Linked DNA regions of Homo sapiens. The protein of the gene in region 2 interacts with the protein of the main gene of each other region in a biochemical or structural test. Each region holds a gene or a part of one and is shown on either strand. Other genes may lie near its edges.

Region 1 (3,233 bases), on a different chromosome or scaffold from region 2:
TTTAACAAAAAAATATATTCTTTGTATTGTTTCTTTAAACATCAATCCACCCTTCCATGGCTCGGAAGTCGCAGTTCCATCTAGGAATAAAAAGAACCTAGATGCCTGGATTTTCAGTACAAAAGGTCCAAGAACATGAAAGGGAAAAGGTGATGCTCTCACAATGCTACAAGCCCTCCACAAACTTCTCTAGCGTGTCCCCCGTGGTGTCCCCGACCAGGGACAGTTCGCTGGACAGCGCACTCCTGCTGGGGGTGTTCAGCTGGGGGAGCATTGCACTCTGTTCGGGGTTCCCCAAGTGTCCCTGATCTATGGAGCTGGCCATGGTGACTGCGAGTCCGGGGTGGGGGGAACCAGTCTGGGGTGAGACGTGGTGTGGCGAAGGCTGGGGCTGTATCCGTGGTGACGGGCTGGAATGTGGAGGCTGGGACTGGGGCCGTGGAGACTGGACAGGGGCTGGAGACCGCACCTGGTTACTAAGGGACGTGGCGATCTGCTGGCCAGGGAGATGCGAGGCCTGTGGCTGTCCTGAGAGCATGTGTTGCTGGGGGCTCATGGGGTTCGGCTGGCCTGGGGACCCAATCTGCTGCTTCATCTGCTGTTGCTGCAGAATCCGCTGCTGCAGGGCTTGCTGGATGTTGGGGGTGCTGTCTGCCCCCAGCCCCGGCTGCCCCATCTGGCCAAGCTGTCCCATCTGAGCCGCCATCTGGCCCATGGAGCTGCCCTGGAGGGGGAGATGCTGCTGCATGCGCTGCTGCTGCTGCATGGCCGGTGGGTAGCCTCCGGGTCCTTGAGGCTGCTGGAACTGGCCGTGCCCCGCCATGCCCCCAGCCATGCCGGCACTCCCTTGCTGCTGCTGCTGTTGCTGCTGTTGTTGCTGCTGCTGTTGCTGCTGCTGCTGCAGCAGCTGCCTCCGTAACATTTCTCGGTACTGTGGATTCATACTCGCCATGTTGGGGTTGTGTCCTGGGTTCATGATGTTCAAGGCCTGGCCCTGGGGGTTCAGGCCTCCCATCGCCTGCTGCTGTGGAGGCACACCGGGCCGCGGCACGCCAGCCTGCATGGCATTCAGGTTCTGCAGGCTGGGCTGCTGGTGCATGCCAGGCTGGGGTTGCATGCCGGGCTGGGACTGGAGGCCAGGCTGGGGCTGCATGCCGGGCTGATTGGCCACGTACTTGGCTGTGCGCTGTTTGATGAAAGCTGCCATTAGCTGCGGGTTTGATTTGAGAATGTTCAGCACCTGCTGTTGCTGCTGAGGGGAGCTGGGCGACTTCAGGGTCCGCAGCAGGTCTTGCAGAGCGCTGGGTGAGATGCTCCTGGGTGGCTGCACGCTGGGCATCCGGGGCCCAGCCACGGCCGCCTGGGCCTGCATGGATATCACAGGCCTGGGCAAGCCTGGCATGGGCTGCTGCTGGGGAAGGGGCGCCTGCTGCCACTGCCCGGGAGGCATGCTGGGCATGACGGGCCCGCTCACCTGGTTGGGTCGGGGCACATTCAGGCTCACGGGGGCCATCTGGCTCCCCGGGGTCCCCATGCCCGTGCGTCCTGGGGGCATGCTGTTGTTGATGTTCACCCGGTACAGGTGCTGCTGCTGCTGGGCCTCACGCTCGATCTGCCGAGCCGCTTCCACCGCTGCAGGAGGGGGCTGGGCCGGGGGTGGGGGGGCCGGCACCTGGCTGGTAGGCTTCCCTGTGGACACCGTGGTGGGGGGCTGAGTCCGGGCCACGCTGGGGAAGCCAGCTGGTGACATGCTCACGGGTGAGGGTTGGGGCTGGGCAGGGGGCTGCGGCGTCTGGGGTGTGCTGGGCTGCTGTGTGGGGGTCCCGGGCGGTGCTGAGGTAGGAGAAGGCAGACTCTGCTGAGGCACGTTGCGGGTGTTCATGGTGGCCATCCGCCGGCGCATGAGCTGGGCCTGCTGCAGGCGGTGCTGGATCTGCTGCTGGCGGAGCTTGTGTTTGATGTTGAGGCAGAAGGGCACGGGGCATTTGTTTTCTTGGCAGTGCTTGGCGTGGTAGCAGCAGAGGGCGATGAGCTGCTTGCACACCGGGCAGCCCCCGTTGGTCTTGCGTTTGCAGCCCTTGGTGTGCTGCACCACCCGCTTCATCTTCTGGCAGGATGGCAGCGAGCAGTTGGCGTTGCGGCACTGGCACGCGTGCACCAGCGACTGGATGCAGCGCTGGATGCTCAGCCGGCGTGACTCCTGGGGGCTCTTTGACTGTGGCTCGCCCTGGCTGCTGCCCTCGTCATCCAGGCCCAGCCCCCACTTCACCATCTTATGGGCATGGCTCTTCGTGTTATAGCAGTTGATGCAGAGGTCGTAGTCCTGCAAGCAAGGAAAGGGGACAGGCCGGTGTCAGCATGGGACCCAGTACCACCAGGCATCCTGGCTGCTTCCCTCCACCGCTAAGTCTGGGTCTGTGCCAGGAGACCCAGGCAGGATAGGAGACCCAGACAGGATGCGAGCACGGACAGGTGGGAGACCCGGACAGGGCGGGAGCACGGACAAGATGGGATCATGGACGGGATGGGATCATGGACAACATGGGATCATGGACAGGACGGGGGCATGGACTGCCTATGTGTTGCTCCCAAGGACCTTCACTCCTGGCAACAGCCCTGAAGGCTCAAAGATAACCTGACCCATGCCCCAAGAACCCCTGGCCTGTAAGCTCACGGACAGTAGACACCAGCCCCCTTCCTTCCGACTTCCTCTGACCTGGGAGTCACATCAGCCCTTGCCACAGCCTGTCCAACTCCTGTACTCAAACTATGAAGCCAGACAGTGAAAGGCTGAGGGAGGCCGGTCCCTCCCAAAGCGCCGACAGCTGCCGTGAAGTGCCTCTGGGAAGGCCTGAGCTATCCGCAGTGCACCAGTGGGACTTCCCCAACGCGCAAGCCCAAGTTACTGAAAACTGCTCGCACCTGGCAACCTGATGGAGCCCTAGGACCAGGTACCATGACTGTGTTCACAAAAAGATATGAAAACTGCCGCATTCAGAAACTAGAAAGAGGACAAAGGAGACTGGAGAAAGGTGGAAAGCGGAAGAAGTGTGTGAAGGTGGGGAGGGAAGAAAGGCCCTCGCTCTGCTGAGGACCCGCTCTGCCCCGCTACAGACACCACAGCAAGTGAGGAGGCTCCGGGTTGGCAGGTGATGGTGACTGTCCTGGGAGGGGGATGGTGGGATCTGTCACCTGCCTGCCCTGCACAGCCTGACTCGGCCCATGCAAGGGAC
Region 2 (2,632 bases):
CCAGCTGGGCTGGGCTGGCTGCAGAGAGCATGCACTTGAAGTTGTATCACTCCGCCCCTGCCTCACAGGCACCTTTTGACTTTTGGGTGGTGGAGTGAGAATAAGAAGGCACCTTACCCTACATCACGGAACCCCCAAACACTCTCTCTGACTAGCCACCCGAGACTGCCCCGCTCTCCCTTCCCACACTCTGGGGTGCGGCAGCGCTAGCTCTTAGCCCTGTGGGTGAACAGCGGCCTTGCAACCACATTGAGGCGGCAGGGAGATCATGACTCAGCCGCTGGGGTCTGAAAATTCTTCTCCTCCATCCCACCCTGCCAGATGGAGAAGATGCGGCTCACTGCTTCTCCAGACCCTCTCCCCTGGGGAGGGGGTGGGGGAGCAGGCTCTCGGCTACTCTCGGTGATCCGAGGAGGACAGGGAGGGCTGGCTCTCCTGGGCAGGAGGTAAGGCACTGGCAGGGGGAGGACGAGGTCGGCAGGTGCTTTTCTGCAAACTGGGGACAATTCAGTCCTGCTACATGGATCCGTGGAAGGAGGGCTTCCACCTCAACCAACCCCTTAGACCCAGGGCGAGGAACTGTGAGCTTGGTGACAGGGACAGCTGTCATATTCTTCTGTGAGGCTGTTTTTGTCTGTTTTTCCTCCTTGGGTCTCTCAGCAGGTGGGTTCGTGCCTGGTGCTCCAGTGATGGGAAGAAAACCCACCTCACCACAGCTACTGCCCGTGAGAATATAACCAGGGCAATGGGATGTTGGTGGGCACTGAAGGGGGTGGGGTGGGAGCTGTGGGCCGATTATTTATCGTGAGTAGGCAGGAGAGGGAGACCCCACTAGGCGCTGGACAAGCGGGGCCTGCAGTGGGGGGAGGTGCAGGTGTCTCTGTCCCTGAGGAATGGATGCATTTCTCCTGTCTGTTCCCTCAACATCAGTCAGCAGCCACTTAGGCAGCGGTGGAGGCATCTCTGGGCAAGGCCCTGCCTCCAGCCTCTGCCCTCTGCCCCCACTTGGGTTTCTTTGTCAAACAAACAGCAACTCCTCATGGCTGAGGTCTCAAGGGACCGGGGAAAAGCCCGCAGGAAAGGGGTTAGGTTGGACAGGAGAGAGAATGGGCTGGGTGGATAGGGGAGGTGGCAGAGGAGGGGCTGAACCCCAGACGGGGTGAGGAGGGCTGCTGAGTAGCCGCCAGCCCCGGGCCTGGCACGTGGCCCTGGAGGAGCAGCCCCACCCAGGCACCGCCACAGGCTGTCCTAGTCAGGAGATCTCATTGCCAAACACTTCGAGCACAAGGGGCGTTAGCTTCATGCTGCACTCAGGCTGGAAGGAGAGGCAGCGGTACTGCTTGGAGTGCTCCTCATTGAGGCTGCGCAGGTCGGCTAGCTTCTGGATCATCTTGGCATAGAGCAGGTGGCTGCCCGGGGGCGGGTGGCGGCAGCGGATGTACGTCTGCAGTGTGTTGGACAGGCGGTCCTGGATGGCCTCAATCAGCGCGGCGTCCTGCACCCCAGGACGATCTGTGGGCACGGGGATAGAGAAGAAGGCACAGGAGCTCTCAGCTGGGCCCCTCACTGCTCAATCCCACCACCCCCCACCCACACAGACACTCAACGGCAGCACCCCCTAGGCCACCCCTCTATGACTGCTGACCGGTGATACCACTGCCTGGCCCCAAAGCCCTCCAGTGACTTCTCCGTGCATTTAGGATCCAGACCTAGGTCCTTCCATGGGCGCACCTGGCCCTGTCCCTGCCTGGCCTTGCTCCCTGTCCATGCTCTGTCCATCCCTCAGCGTCCCGATGCGCCATGCTCTCTGGCCACCAGCCTTCACATCTGTGCTCCCTCTGCTTGGAACTCTGCTCTGCTATCTTTGCCAGACTCTTACTGATCCTTTGGATAACAGCTTAAAAGGTCTTCCTCCAAAAGGCCATTCCTGGCAACACTCTACCTCTGTAGCCCAGACCACGTCAGCTTCCCTCCTTCTATTCTACCCTTCTGTAGCATCACTTACTTTATTTTTAAAACTCTTGCCTTGTTAGGAATTAATAATTAAATAACATTTGTTTAATGTTTCCTCCTAAGCTTCATGGGAGAGGAGCCTGTGTCCCATTTGCTGCTGAACCCCAGTACCTAGCATAGTGCCTGGTACCTAATAGGTGCTCAATAAATTGTTGCTAAGTGGATGAATGAATGAGAGAAGGCTGGCTGGGCAGGGGTAGAGGAGCCCATCTCCATTCCTTGAGCCTCCAGTCCAGGAAAGCATCCCTGGGCACAGGCCACTAGCACAGGCTGAGGCAGGGCCGCCCCTCTTTGGACCTCATCACCGACATCATGTCCCCAAGGTCACAATAACTTCCTCTTCGGCCTTTTCTCCCTCTTCTCACCTCTAACCAGCGGAAGAGGTCAAGGGTCACTGCACATTGCCTCCAAAATCAATCAGGTAAACTATATAGGCAGAACCATCTCTCAGGCTCCAAAGTTTTGTACCCTGCCCGCAAGAAACCTCAAATAACAGGAATGTTGAGCCCAGTTCACGCAAGAGCAGAGCCTGAGTATTGGGAATGCGCAGGCCTGTCTGTGGCCCCAGGAACCCTGCTTATCTAGTTCCTCAGAATCCCCCCTACGAATCGCCTGCACA

The links. The genes of interacting proteins can lie anywhere in the genome.
Region 1: the proteins of VDR (region 2) and CREBBP form a complex in vitro, tested with the Homo sapiens proteins (2 studies listed by BioGRID).

Annotation. Positions count from the first base shown.
Region 1 is NC_000016.10:3,727,552-3,730,784, forward strand, and holds part of CREBBP (CREB-binding protein), read right to left. Parts: intron 2,324-3,233; coding exon 167-2,323; 3' UTR 1-166. UniProt on the Homo sapiens protein: Acetylates histones, giving a specific tag for transcriptional activation. Mediates acetylation of histone H3 at 'Lys-18' and 'Lys-27' (H3K18ac and H3K27ac, respectively).
Region 2 is NC_000012.12:47,843,494-47,846,125, forward strand, and holds part of VDR (vitamin D3 receptor), read right to left. Parts: intron 1,513-2,632; coding exon 1,253-1,512; coding exon of another isoform or gene 1,052-1,252; 3' UTR 1-1,051.